Linked DNA regions of Homo sapiens: region 2 is reported to be linked to region 1. The links are microRNA targets in miRTarBase. Many come from high-throughput screens and were not tested one by one. Region 1 holds a microRNA gene; the other region holds the end of a gene's coding sequence.

What was found. The annotated mature microRNA hsa-miR-302a-3p reads UAAGUGCUUCCAUGUUUUGGUGA and lies in region 1 at 4,616-4,638, shown strand. An mRNA with a match to its seed (bases 2 to 7 or 8) in the 3' UTR can be bound and repressed. Matches are read on the target gene's strand: a 7mer-m8 pairs with bases 2 to 8, a 7mer-A1 pairs with bases 2 to 7 and ends in A, and an 8mer does both.
Region 2: the mRNA of ANKS4B is a reported target of hsa-miR-302a-3p. Seed matches in the 3' UTR shown: 7mer-m8 at 4,974-4,980 and 7mer-m8 at 4,232-4,238.

What each region holds. Positions count from the first base shown.
Region 1 is chr4:112,645,824-112,652,823 of GRCh38, reverse strand. It overlaps MIR302A (microRNA 302a), which reads left to right and starts at 4,573; the gene lies at 4,573-4,641. LARP7 (La ribonucleoprotein 7, transcriptional regulator) reads right to left here. Exons shown (of 13, transcript NM_016648.4): 3 at 6,373-6,473; 4 at 6,153-6,236; 5 at 5,869-6,033; 6 at 5,697-5,790; 7 at 5,275-5,625; 8 at 4,990-5,134; 9 at 3,138-3,289; 10 at 2,242-2,363. MIR302CHG (miR-302/367 cluster host gene) reads left to right here and starts at 2,773. Exons shown (of 3, transcript NR_146092.1): 1 at 2,773-2,832; 2 at 4,225-4,311; 3 at 5,856-6,104. It overlaps MIR367 (microRNA 367), which reads left to right and starts at 4,883; the gene lies at 4,883-4,950. It also overlaps MIR302D, MIR302C and MIR302B. RefSeq lists an enhancer at 3,231-3,953.
Region 2 is chr16:21,249,880-21,257,011 of GRCh38, reverse strand. It overlaps ANKS4B (ankyrin repeat and sterile alpha motif domain containing 4B), which reads right to left. Exons shown (of 2, transcript NM_145865.3): 2 at 3,162-7,132. The coding sequence ends at 6,192. Among named protein-coding and RNA genes, the nearest start is that of ANKS4B, 20 kb to the right of the region's middle.

The sequences.
Region 1 (7,000 bases):
AATATTCTATAAGGACAACAGATTTATAGAGCAGAAAGCAGAAATAGTGTCCCCCAACCCCCAAATCAGGAAGCGTTCACATCTGGGAGTAGTATAAGGAATAAAATTAAAAAAAAAAAAAAGGATTAAGGGAGGTTTGTTTTTACTCACCTGTAGAAAATCACTATGACTTTAAAATATGTGTACAAATCATTCCACTTTTAATAACAACTCATGAAAAACAGTTTAACCAAACCTAAAATACTAGATTTCCACATTGTTCAAGAGCTCTTACTTTCTGAAAAAAATACCTAAGTAACCTCTTCTAAACAAGTTGTGGTCACCCAGCAAGGAAAAGTTTTACCTACACTGCCTGCTGTGAGGGCAAATTAACCAGATTCCTGCATTCTTAATCAACTTTTTTTTTCACAGCAGGTTTTACAGAGTATACAATGCATTTATGCAGGAATGTTACACTAATTCCTAATTCATCAACTTCCATTCATAAAGCTAAAGAAGTAACTGGAGATTGCTAAATGGGGGGGGGGGGGAAATCTTATTTATCTTGCCTCCCTTTCGTTTTGACCTAAAATTTCAGACATAACTAATTTACATTACTTTCAGATGTTGAATTTTTAGATGTTTGAATTACGGAAAGAACTGAGCAATACCTGGAAGTATTATTTCATCATAGAATAAGAAAAGTTTATCAGTTAATAATAAAAAATATATAATAAAATCTGTGAGTTTCTAGAAGCCAGGGACTAGATCTTAACTCATCCCAACACTCAGCAACTATCACAAAACAGGCATTTAGTAACTGTTTGCCAAATTAAAAAAAAAAAAACTGCAGAGACTTACACTTGCTAGTCCTTCCCACTTCTTTACCTAGTTAATTAGTACCAAATTTAGATATAAAGCAAGTAAAAAACTCAGTATTGTTGAAATTTGAATGCATTCAGTAGTAGTAATGAGTTTTATAACTGACTTTTGAGCATATTCAATTACTACAACTCAAAAGATATATACTAAATATCCATTATAATGTCAGGCTAATCTCTTGATTTAAAACCCTTAGAATTTAAAACCCATAGAATGACAAATTAGCCTGGTAATCACATGGGCAAGTCACAGACAGTTGTAACCAACACAGCTCAGTTTTTGTTTCAGCAAAATGTAAGTAACTACTAACTGGATTAATGCAGGGATTGATTTTATGATTTTGATGATCATAAATGATGAATTTGTAATTGATAAAGTTACCCTTTAAATAACAGAAGTTATTTAATGAGTTGATTAGAAATAACTCTGAGCAATTTTTGTATTAAATGTTTTGCAATCTGATTAATCAGAGCAGTATTTACATCCCTCAATTTTCAGCTGTCTCCTGAAATGCAAGCTGGTAATAGCAATTTGGATTTGGCCAAATCCTTCACCAACATTGCAAAGAGGATCAAAATTTGTTTCTTAGTGACAGCTATAGGATTGTAGGACAGTATTTCAGATAAGGAGGGCTTACAGATAAACAAACCACCACCTCAATGGTATTCAAGTTAAAACCTGTGACTGATGAGTCTACGTAAAACCAAAACAACATACTAAGTGATGATGAATGTCAGTATAAGAAAATACTTAAAATATGTGGTATGTTACAGAGCATTTCACACTTTTTAAAAAGAAAAGGATTCACTTAAATGGGTGACAGGCAGGGTAAGGGTAAATAAGATATGGTACTCTCACCTAAAAGTATATAATTTCCCTAATAGAAAGTATTGCTACCAATGTGGTATAAAAGGCTACAGAAGATAGACTGTATAAAGCGAAAAAATTATAAACCTGTATGTACAGCAATTTGTAGCGTAAATTATATAGAAGTATGGGTTTTTTGGCACATGCGTGAAAAATTTTAAGAGGTTTTCAAAAATATTTTACTTTTCTATAATTAAAATTTTAAAGATAATCAGCACATAGGTAATACAAAAAAAATCAGTGCCAATAAAAATAAGCAAAAGTTACAATTTTCCTATAGAGAAGGATGTTTAAACTGTGCTTACATATAGATTTAGTGAGGAATTTCAGCCTCTAGATTTTGCTTCAAAATTAAACCTAAGAGTTACCATGGAATTAAAACTGTACAGTAGTTTACCATAGGGAAACAAATTCTAACTTGATTTGTTTTATCTTCCATATTCAAAACATTTTCACACAGGGAAATAATAAGAGAAGAAAGGAACAAATACCCTAGGGGCTCAAAATCATTACCCGGACTTGTTTCCTGCCAGGTAGAGGCTCTGTGCTAATGATCTTCACAATCACTCCACTCACGAACTGTGGTCCTGTTGCATTAACTTTCTCCTGGGTGCGACACTCTTCCCTGTTGGCTGCTGATTAGAAAAGGAAAAAGACCAGGACTAAATCTCTTACACTTAACAACAATTTAATACTTAGGAGGACTACCTTAGAATAATTCCTGAGGCAGATTTAAATAATTTAAAACGTATTTAATTTTAAAGTAAACAATTAAAGGTTATATGTCATACTGCTTATTTCAAAATACCATGAATAAAACTCAGAAAGTTTTATTATTCTACATGCAAATTGTTACTGCTAGAAGAGCATTCGTAAAGCCTTTAAATTTGCCCCTTCTCCCTGAACAAAGGAACAGTAAATTTTTACTCAATAAAGTTAAAAAAAAGTTAAAGGATACTGTGTTTTAAATACATTATTATTCAAACGTGAACATTTATTTTTACAAGAAATGAGAATTTAAAATGTATCCTAATTTTGAATTCATAGGAATTCTGCTTTAACTTGTTCCTGCTTGTGGTGCATACTACAGAATGAAATTAACAGGTGAGAAACTACAATCTTCATTCCTACAAACTTGCTCAGTCTGCAAACTCTGCACTCATGTGCTTGATGAAAACTGTAGAGAAAACTCAGGTTATTTAAAAAATTGTTTTAAATGAGCCTTTTAAATATTCTTATATCAAGAGTAAGTAACACATCTGGATAACTTAACAAATCAAGAATTGTTCTAATAATGAAATAGAATAATCAAGTTTTTTAAAATTAAAATTTATCTTATAACAACTCAGAGATAGCATTTACATATATAAGTACATTATAATGTTGTCAAAACTATCAGTGATCTTTACTTTTTTCATTTTTCATTCCAGTGTTTTGAGGTACTCCACTGTCTGTTTCCATTTCTGACTCTGATTTTATTTGGGATATTGTTTTTTTTAAAGAAGCCATGCTAGCTTTTTGTAGCGCTAAATACTCTTTTTTCAAATCCATCCATTCGCTCCTACAAGGAAAGAAATGGTGATAACAGATGACTAAATATAAAAAGTAAATAGGGAAATATCTAAATATATACATTCACAATGACTTGGAGCAACTCCTCCACCAACTTTCCTGTTTCTTTAAACACATATTCAAAATATTTCCTAGGTTCTAAAGACATTTAGCAAAATAAGCTAAGGGAGTTCCTCTTCCCCCAATATTCAGATTAAATGTTTTAAGATTGCCAATTAAATTTTTGAGTGTCTGAAGTATTTTAATTTATAAAAGTAAAATTTTAGCATTAATTCCTTAACTAGTAACATTTACTAAATCAGTCATCTCTGTGGGAAAAGGGCGAGATTAAAGATTTGTTAAACTGCTTCCAATTTGAGAGATAACATTCCTTAGTATTTACTTGAATCAAAAAGAATTTCTAAGTAGAACAAAACACCCCGTGGAAGCAATCTATTTATTTACATACATTTAACATGTAGATGCTTCTTCAAACAGAGTTCCTCCAGATAGAAACACAATGCCTTTCTCGGCTCAGTGGGAGCACTCATTGTTACCCTAATCTATGCCATCAAACAAGCAGATAGGAGATTTTCTTTTTCTTTTTCTTTTTTTTTTTTAAGAGGAAGATATCTTGTGGTAATGGTTTTAGCTGTTAACATTGACATCTGTATACTTCAAAAAAAAAAAAAAGGATCCAGACCCACCCAGGATCATACATTCCCTGAGAGCTGATACATTAAAATAACAAAAGGCCCTTGTAATGATTCTCTGAGATAAAAAGGCAAAAGGAATTCAAGAGTTAAGAATAGTATAAATAGAAGTGGCTGAAGTCCCTGCCTTTTACCCTTCTGGAGGAGAACACGAATCTTTGGGAACTAGTTCAGGAAGGTAAAAAAATTTTTTTCTTCTAAAGTTATGCCATTTTGTTTTCTTTCTCCTCAGCTCTAAATACTCTGAAGTCCAAAGAAGTTGTATGTTGGGTGGGCTCCCTTCAACTTTAACATGGAAGTGCTTTCTGTGACTTTAAAAGTAAGTGCTTCCATGTTTTAGTAGGAGTGAATCCAATTTACTTCTCCAAAATAGAACACGCTAACCTCATTTGAAGGGATCCCCTTTGCTTTAACATGGGGGTACCTGCTGTGTGAAACAAAAGTAAGTGCTTCCATGTTTCAGTGGAGGTGTCTCCAAGCCAGCACACCTTTTGTTACAAAATTTTTTTGTTATTGTGTTTTAAGGTTACTAAGCTTGTTACAGGTTAAAGGATTCTAACTTTTTCCAAGACTGGGCTCCCCACCACTTAAACGTGGATGTACTTGCTTTGAAACTAAAGAAGTAAGTGCTTCCATGTTTTGGTGATGGTAAGTCTTCCTTTTACATTTTTATTATTTTTTTAGAAAATAACTTTATTGTATTGACCGCAGCTCATATATTTAAGCTTTATTTTGTATTTTTACATCTGTTAAGGGGCCCCCTCTACTTTAACATGGAGGCACTTGCTGTGACATGACAAAAATAAGTGCTTCCATGTTTGAGTGTGGTGGTTCCTACCTAATCAGCAATTGCGTTAACGCCCACACTGTGTGCAGTTCTTGGCTACAGGCCATTACTGTTGCTAATATGCAACTCTGTTGAATATAAATTGGAATTGCACTTTAGCAATGGTGATGGATTGTTAAGCCAATGACAGAATTTAAACCACAGACTTACTTTGATAGCACTCTTAATGGTATAACTTCTTCTCCCATTTTATGTCTCTCTTTATGTTTTTTCTTATGTTTCCTTTTTGTTTTCAAGAGAGAGCTATCTTTTAGATCTCCAGTATCCTTTTCCTCTTCAGTAGAGATTTCTATATCTTGAAATAAATAAAAAAGCTCTCCGTTAAGACATGGGGCTGTGAAATGGGTGAAACAGAAGCCAATTAAAACCTAATTAATTAAAAACTAATTAATTAAAATTAATTAGTTTTATCTAATTAAAACCTTGTAGTTTTACCTCTATTTTCCTTGGAAGCTTCTGATGCTTCCTTAATGATGTCTTTCTGAATAATTTTCTTTACTTTTGATCGGGGAGCTAGGGATTCTGCATCTTCAGAGCTGCTTCTCTTCCTCTTCCCTGTTCTGACTTCAGGTAAGCTAGATGCTTCAACTCTGTCCCGTTTTTTCTTTTTCTTTGAGCACTGCTTTTGGGGTTCAGTGGACTCAATGTCAGAGCCCTCAGATGTGGGTCTGGATCTTTTCATTTTACTGATGCTGGTGTTGCTTGTGTCCATGTTTTCTTCTTTGGCTTGGATATTGTCTTCCTTTTTCATTCGGCCTTTCTTCTTCTTTTTCTTTTTCTTCTCTTCTGTAAAAGTGCCATCATTATTAGTTCATCTTACTTCAACTACACCTATTTAAATATTGAAAAATACTCACCCACAACTCTTAAGGCTGGAATGGGCTTATTTTTCACTGTTTTAGGAAATATGCCAGGTTTTCTTGGTGCTTCTTCTGGTGGGTTGTTAAGAAACTGAAATGATTGCAAAAGTTACTATTTTAATACTTGTTTTCTTTTCTTTCTTTTTTTTTTTTTAGGATCTGGACTTACCTCAATTGCTTTTGCTGCTTGTTCTTTTGTTTCAAATTCCACAAACGCAAATCCCTTTGGATCTCCAGTAGACTTATAATGTGGTATACTTATATAAACAACATTGCCACATTTCCCAAATACTCTTTCAATCCAGCTGTGATTAACATTTTTGGGAAGTAACTCCTATTATAAATTAAAAGCAATATTAGAGTTTTTCACAATCAGAATGTCAATAAATTTTTAACTTAATTATATTGTTTCTGTGCCAGTTTCTGACTGGGGACCCGGGTTCTTAAGCTTACCACATACACTGTGCGTTCATCCTCATCCTTTGGTCTTTCCCCCAGAGGTTTTTTCCTCCGGATTCTGGTGCCTTCCAAATCAAGCTTTAAAATAGTATATTACATTAATAAAACTAATATTATTTATAATTGTAAGCTATAATCATATAATAATCATTACGTTAACATTCTTTATAATTATAAACTATAAATATAAACAGTAGTTATTCTTGATTCTTACCTCTACAACAGCTGAACTTCTCAATGCTCTGGCAATTAACTTCCCATCAGTAGTCAATTTTTTCATTTTGTTAAAAGACACAAGTAGTGATATATCAACATCTAAAGAAAATGAAAAAGTTAATATGTTAGTGTATCAGCAGGATTAATTCAATTTGGTACAATTTAACCTGCCCCTCAGGCCCTCAGGCTCGGTGGCTCATGCCTGTAATCCTAGTACTTTGGGAGGCCAAGGCGGGTGGATGGGGGAGTTCAAGACCAGCCTGGCCAACATAGTGAAACCCCATCTCTACTAAAAATACAAAGAATTAGCTGGGTGTAGTGGTGCACGCCTGTAATCCCAGCTACTCGAGAGTGAGGTAGGAGAATCGCTTGAACCCAGGAGGCAGAGGTTGCAGTGAGCTGAGATCACTCCAGCCTGGGAGAAAGAGACTCAAACAAAACAAACAAAAAAAAACTGTATGAGGGTCTAAATGGCATTGCATATTTGGCGACCTAAAATGACACATTTTAGTGTATGTAACTGCAGATTAAGATTTGAACACAAATTATTAGCAATACCCAGACATTCAAAGAGGACATCTGGATCCCATCCTATTAGAAACAAGCACAAGGTTGGCTATTTGAAA
Region 2 (7,132 bases), not on the chromosome of region 1:
ATAAGTCAGCAGCAAAGCATGGCTCTGTTTTCCTGACCATACTCCTCCTGGGAAGGACTCATGCTCCAGATGGTTTAGCCAAAAGTTTATCATATTTGCCAGACTGTCTGGACAGGGGTCTTTGTGCTGAAACAAAATACCCACATTACCCACATGATCTGATTCTGCATATCTCAAGTGACTATGGAGTCTTTCTGAGGAATCCTGATGGTCACTACCCTAAAGGATATATAGAGAAGAGCATGGAATGATGAGAATATTCATATATCTTTTCTTTCATTCTTTTCGCAAGAGCCCCTATCATAACCCTGTGCTAGCTTACTAAGATACAACAGAAAAGTAGTCCTCAGCCCCAGAGAACACAGCCTCGAAGAGAAGACAGATGTTAAAAAAAAAAAATTACAATAATTTGGTGTTACAGGAACATGGTTCAGGGTCCCTGCAGGAAATGCAGATGTTCCTTGACTTATGATGCAGTCGTGTCCCAATAAATTCATCAAAAGTTGGAAATATGTGGCCGAACATGGTGGGTCATGCCTGTAATCCCAGCACTTTGGGAGGCCAAGGCAGGCGGATCACCTGAGGTCAGGAGTCCGAGACCAGCCTGGGCAATATGGTGAAACCCCGTCTATACTAAAAATACAAAACTTAGCTGGGTGTGGTGGTGCACACCTGTAGTCCCAGCTACTCAGGAGGCTGAGGCAGGAGAATCACTTGAACCCAGGAGGCAGAGGCTGCAGTGAGCCGAGATTGTGCCAGTGCACTCCAGCCTGGTTGACAGAGCAAGACCCTGTCTCAAAAAAAGTTGGAAATGTGTCAAAAATGCATAGAAAACACCTACCAAACATGATAGCTTAGCCTTGCCTACCTTAAATGTGCTCAGAACACTTACATTTGCCTACATTTGGGCAAAATCATCTGGTAACACGGTACACTGTTCACTGTCAATTGATTATCCTGGTGATCACATGGCTGATTGGAAGCTGTGGCTCGCTGCCTCTGCCCAGCATCCTGAGAGAATATCTTACCAGTTTCTACTGAATGCGTATCATTTTCACACCATCGTAAAGTCAAAAAATCTTAAGTTGAACGATTGTAAGTGGGGAACTGTCTGTAGATGCCACACTCAAAAGGTGTGATTGAAGAGAATAAAGAGACTGTTTAGGAAGAAGCACCCCAGGGTTAGCAATAGTAGGAAATCACTACCACTGCTAAGCTTGAAAGAGCAGTTAGTGAAACCCAGAAACAACTAGAGCTATAGCAGAGGGCTGCCAGATGGGAGAGGTGAGCTTAGATGAAGGCAGCTGCTGCCCTGAAAAGAAGAAACAGGTAGAATAAATGCCTCAATCTTTCTTTCTCCCACCTTCTGGTATCTTGTTAGTAACTCCCATTGGCCAGACCCAACCAGGATCCCAAGGGCAAGGGAGCCCTTTGATGCAGTCCAGAGCCCAACCACCTGGGACACAAAGTAGGTTGGAAAATAGTAGAGAGAAGTTCTGGAGAGGCAAACAAAGAGAGCTTGCACAGATAGGAAGCTACTCAACCCAGACTAGGGGCAAAGAGAGAGGGTATGTCTCCCAGTGAGGATGGCTATATGGAGGAAGACTTTTCCAGGCAGAAGGGTGATGGTATGCTAAGGCACAGGCATATGAGAGACATGTATTCAGGAAGCCACAAGAAATCTAGTATAGCTGAAATTAGGGGACAGGGAGAGGAGTGGTCAGAGATGGGACCAGAGGTTTGGAGGAGAGAATAGGGCTCTTTAATCATGCAGGCCTTCTGTGTGGTGGTGAGAGTTTGAAAAGCAATGGTGGCTGAGCCCAGTGGCTCACGCCTGTAATCCCAGCACTTTGGGAGGCTGAGGCAGGTGGATCACCTGAGGTCGGGAGTTCGAGACCAGCCTGACCAACATGGAGAAACCCTGTCTCTACTAAAAATACAACATTAGCCAGGCTTGGTGGCACATGCCTGTAATTCCAGCTACTTGGGAGGCTGAGGCAGGAGAATCACTTGAACCCAGGAGGCTGAGGTTGCGGTGAGCTGAGATCGTGCTATTGCACTCCAGCCTGGGCAACAAGAGCAAAACTGCGTCTTAAAAAAAAAAAAAAAAAAAAAGCAACAGTAAAGTAGAAAGTGACAAGAGACTTACATATTAAAAAGATTACGTGACTCAACCAGCCTTGTGGAGAATGAATTAAAGACAGATAAGGATACTTACAGCAATCCAGTGAGTGATGGTTGGGGGCAGGAACCAATAGGTCATCTTGCAAACATCAAAGAGGATTTAGCTCTGAGACATATTGAAAAGTTGAAAGGGCCTGGTGACCAATTGGGTGATGAAAAGAAGTATTGGGTTAAATTTTCCATTTATGAAAAATGAAGATTTAGAGCTGCATGTTTTAATGCAGCTGAAACTGAGCACGATCACTATTTGGGTCTCGATAATTCATTGTGGTGGTGGGCTGTCCTGTACATTCTAGGATGTTTAGCACCCATTGTTTCTACCCACTGGATGTCAGTTGCACCACTGTTCCCCTATCATGGCAATCAAAAAATGTCTCTAGATATTGCCACATGTCCTCTAGGAGACAGAGGGCAAAATCATCCAAGTTGAGAACTGACAACCTGGAAGAAAATGGGTTCAGTCCTGGACACACTGAGTATGGGGTACTTGTGAGACATGTGAGAGGAGATGTCAGATTAGATTTGGGCTTAAGTATTTGGTGCCCAAAGCAATGGTCTGGGCTGGTAACTTGGACTTAGGAATTCTGAGCATATAACTGACCTGTACTACACAATGGCCTGAAATATAAGCACAATACACATTTACCACACTATAACTTCTCAAACTCTCCTCTTCGGTGAAATGCTCCCAGCTGCTTTTCCCTCTTGTTGACTTTTATGTCAAGCTACATAGAGGGGGAAAAGAGGGGCCAGGAGGTGGTAGGGGTGACCAGATATTGGATTGAGCTACTCTAAGCATCTAGTTTAAGAGATGGAGGTCTGAGATCAGTGAGTACTTGAAGCTCATCCTGGCTCATAATCCTCTTGTCTTTGTCTCTTATCAAGGCCTTTGTATTGCTCTGGCATCTTCTCTTAGCCCCTGTAGTTGGTATTTAGTTCGAAAGATCTGGAATTCTTAGAACATTGATAACATCTTATAACATGGTATAAACCTTTTTTTATTATATAACAATACTCTGTGACGAAGAGACTATATCCTTGATGCTGAGAACTTTGGAGAACGCTCACCTATTAATTCTGTCAATCATAAAAGAAAAGAACCCCTAAGAAGAGCATAGAGGTACCTGATGAGACCCCTAGTGGCAAATATCTCCTAAAAAGGGATGAGAGTCAATGTTCAAGTTCATTTCTACCAACCTGAGTGATGGCTCTCTTGCTATGATGTAGTTACAGCAGGGGGTGGAGCAAATATCTCATTAGGCAGATTCCGGGCAATAGGTGAAGAGGGGATTCTGGCATCTATGATGATGAAATATAATAGTGGCAGGCACAGACTACAAACTTTTTTGAGCACTTTCTATTTGCCAACTGCTTCTGTGCACGTTAATGAAGGAAAGCACAACTTCAGTTTATTCCACAAGATAAGGTATTTGTAAACAATCATCCCCTAATGCAACGTGTTTATTCAATGGCTAACAAGCTTTCTGAATATATTCATTGAGGAAGAATAAGCCAATTGTTCATCAGATTTGAGCATCTGTATCCTCCCTAAACTTGAATCCTCCATGATGCCTCTTGAAGTAACCCAAACAGATGTGCATCAGAAAGCAAGCTGAAGATAAACAGCTGTTTCTGTATTATACCCAGAATCAACAGTAAATTCCACTTGATGTAAGTCAGCCTGTAGAGATCTAATGAAGCTTAGCTCTTCAGTGGGGTTTCAGTTTGAATTTGGGATTGCCATTGAAAAAATGTCAGCAGCAGTGTTGTCAGTTTCTTTTTTCTTTTTTTTTTTTTTTTTTTTTGAGATGGAGTCTCTCTTACCGCCTGGGCTAGAGTGCAGTGGTGCAATCTCAACTCACTGCAACCTCCACCTTTTGGGTTCAAGCAATTCTCTTGCCTCAGCCTCCCAAGTAGCTGGGATTACAGGCACACGCCACCACACCTGGCTAATTTTTGTATTTTTAGTAGAGACGGGTTTCCGCCATGTTGGCCAGGCTGGTCTTGAACTCCTGACCTCAGGTGATCTGCCTGCCTGGGCCTCCCAAAGTGCTGGGATTACAGGCATGAGCCAAGTGTTGTCAGTTTCTATCGTGGAACCTACACATATTCAGATATGCGGCAATGGTGACAGACAACAGTAAATAAACCATGTGTACATAATAAGCATGAAAATGTGAAATTTCCTTTGACAATCAAATCTTCCCTCCAAAGAACTTAGTTTTTTTTCCCCTTAAGTTTCACTAGGTGTTTACCCTTACAAAACTCATCAATTGCAGTTGGACAGACTTTTTTTCTGTATTTTTCTTGGTCTCCTCCCCAACCCTCTTACTTAGGACAGTATTATTCTGCTAGGACTGCCATAACAAAATGCCACAGACTGGATGGCTTCAACAACAGCAGTTTATCAACCGAAGTTTATTTTCTCACACCTTTGGGGGCTGAAAGCCCAAGATCAAGGTGATTGCAGGGTTGGTTTCTCCTGAGGCCCCCTCCTCGGCTTGCAGACGGCCACCTTCTCACTGTGTCCTCACGTGGCCTCTCTGTGTGCCTTCCACCTAAGTGTCTCTTCCTCTTCTTAGGACACCAGTCCTAGGCCAGGTGCAGTGGCTCATGCCTGTAATCCCAGCACTCTGGGAGGCCGAGGCAGGTGGATCACCTGAGGTCAGGAGTTTGAGACCAGCCTGGCCAACATGGTGAAACCCCGCCTCTACTAAAAATACAAAAACTTAGCCAGGCGTTGTGGTGCACGCCTGTAATCCCAGCTACTCAGGAGGCTGAGGCATGAAAAGTGCTCGAACCTGGGAGGCGGGGGTTGCAGTGAGCTGAGATCACGCCACTGCACTCCAGCATGAGTGACAGAGCAAGGCTCCATCTCAAAAAAAAAAAAAAAAAGGGAAAAAAAGGACACCAGTCCTACAGGATTAGGGTTGCATTCTTATGACTTCATTTAACCTTAATCACTTCTTTAAAGGTCTTATTTCCAATTACAGTCACATTAGGGGTTAGAGCTCCAACATATGAATTTGACGCAATTCAGTCCACAACAGGTACCACCTGTATTCTATCTCTTTCTTCACTCTCCCCACCACCACTCTGTCTCTATTCTCAGGCAGGAGTATTATAGACGCATTTCCATTACTTGTAAACATGTACACATTTGTTAAAGGGTTAGATGCATTTAAGTTGGGCATCAAGCCGCAGGCCAGGAAAGAACTCTAGTCTCTACCACTAGGCAAAGTCATAGATCTCAGGAGAGAAAAAGAATTGGAATTCCCAGGTTACACAGATCGGAAAGCAAGCAGCAGGATAATGTGATGAGATTATAATTTTAAATCCAGAGATAGAAAAGTAAAGGAAGTTTCTTTCATTTTCCTGTCATGCATATGACCCTTTCTTTATTCAAAAGTATCAAAAAGATAGGCTGGGTACGGTGGTTCACACCTGTAATCCCAGTGCTTTAGGAGGCTGAGGTGGGAGGATTGCTTGAGGCCAGGAGTTTGAGACCAGCCTGGGCAATGTGGCAAGACCCCACCTCTACTAAAACATACAAAATAAGCCAGGTGTGGGGGGTGTGAACCTGTAGTCTCAGCTACTTGGGAGGCTGAGGTGGGAGGAGATCATTTGAGCCCAGGAGGTTGAGAATACAGTGAACTATGATCATACCACTGCACCCTAGCCTGGGTAAGAGACTGAGACCTTCATCTCCAAAAAACAAAACAAAACAAAACAAAACAACCACAAAAACAATTATATGTACATATAAGATAACTGAAGAGAAATGCCAGATTCTTGTTATGAAGTCTCCTCAAGTTTCTCATGGAGATTTATTTGGATGGGCATAGCCTACCTCCCAGAGTAAAGTTTGGGTCTCTCTCTCAGGTAGGCATTTCCGATGCCCTAGAATCCATTCCCAGTGGTCTGGCATTGGGTAAAGAGGGGGTGCCGCCTGGAGTGCTGCCAGCGGGCCACAGCATCACCCCAATGCTCCAGGCCAAAACTCTCCATCACAGGCTGGTGTCGACCAGCTGCCCAGGCTGTTGAAGCACCTGCTTCCTCCTGTTGATAGCATTCAGAACTTTCTTCCTGGGACCCAGCTGCATTTGTATGCTCTGAAGGTCCTCATCAGAGCAGAGCAGCAGAGCTTCTAGATCAATCTGCTCTCTCTTGAAGATAGGCAGGAATTCTTCCAGGTGCTGAGACAGCAAGAACACTTCCAGGGGCGTGGCATCGACCACATCTTCCTCCCACTCCACTTCATCGTCATCCCACGGCAGATCATCTTTGAGGCCGTTTTCCTCTCCCTCTTCATCAGCTGCACCCTCATCAGCCTCTGATGCTCCTTGTCTTTGAAGCAATTCACTGGGCAGTTTAAAACCAAACTCTCTCTTGCTATCTGAGATGTCTTCAGGACTCGATATCCTGTTCCTTCTAAAAACAATACTTCCTAGACCTGGACGATTGAGAATGGATTCATGGTGCACACTGCCGTCCTCCTCTGCTGACAACTGGAGCTTCTCTTTGAAGTCCCCTGAGAACGAGTCTTCCTCTTCCTCTCTGAACACTTCCATCACGTTCCTCTGCCCACTTCTGCCTTCCTTCCCCACCTGTTCTGCTGTATCTTTGTTCTTCTTGAACTTGATCTTGAAAGTGTCTTTAATGCCCTTAGATAGTGACCCGAATGTGCCAGGAGCAGAAGCATTTGAAGGGGATGATCTGGAGAAGGTACCCTTGGAAGAAGAGAGAGTCCCGGATTCCTCCTTGCTGTAGGTGTGGGCCATCTTATTTTGGTGCTTCTCCTGGAGCCTCTCACACTCTTTGATCTGCCTCCTGGCATTCTTCTGAGCCTGCTCCTTCAGCCTGGTGACCTTCTTGGGGTTCATGATGTTCTGTGCAGTGGCAGCCTTGTCCAGGAGAGCAACACATTCATTCTGCTCCCTGCTGGCAG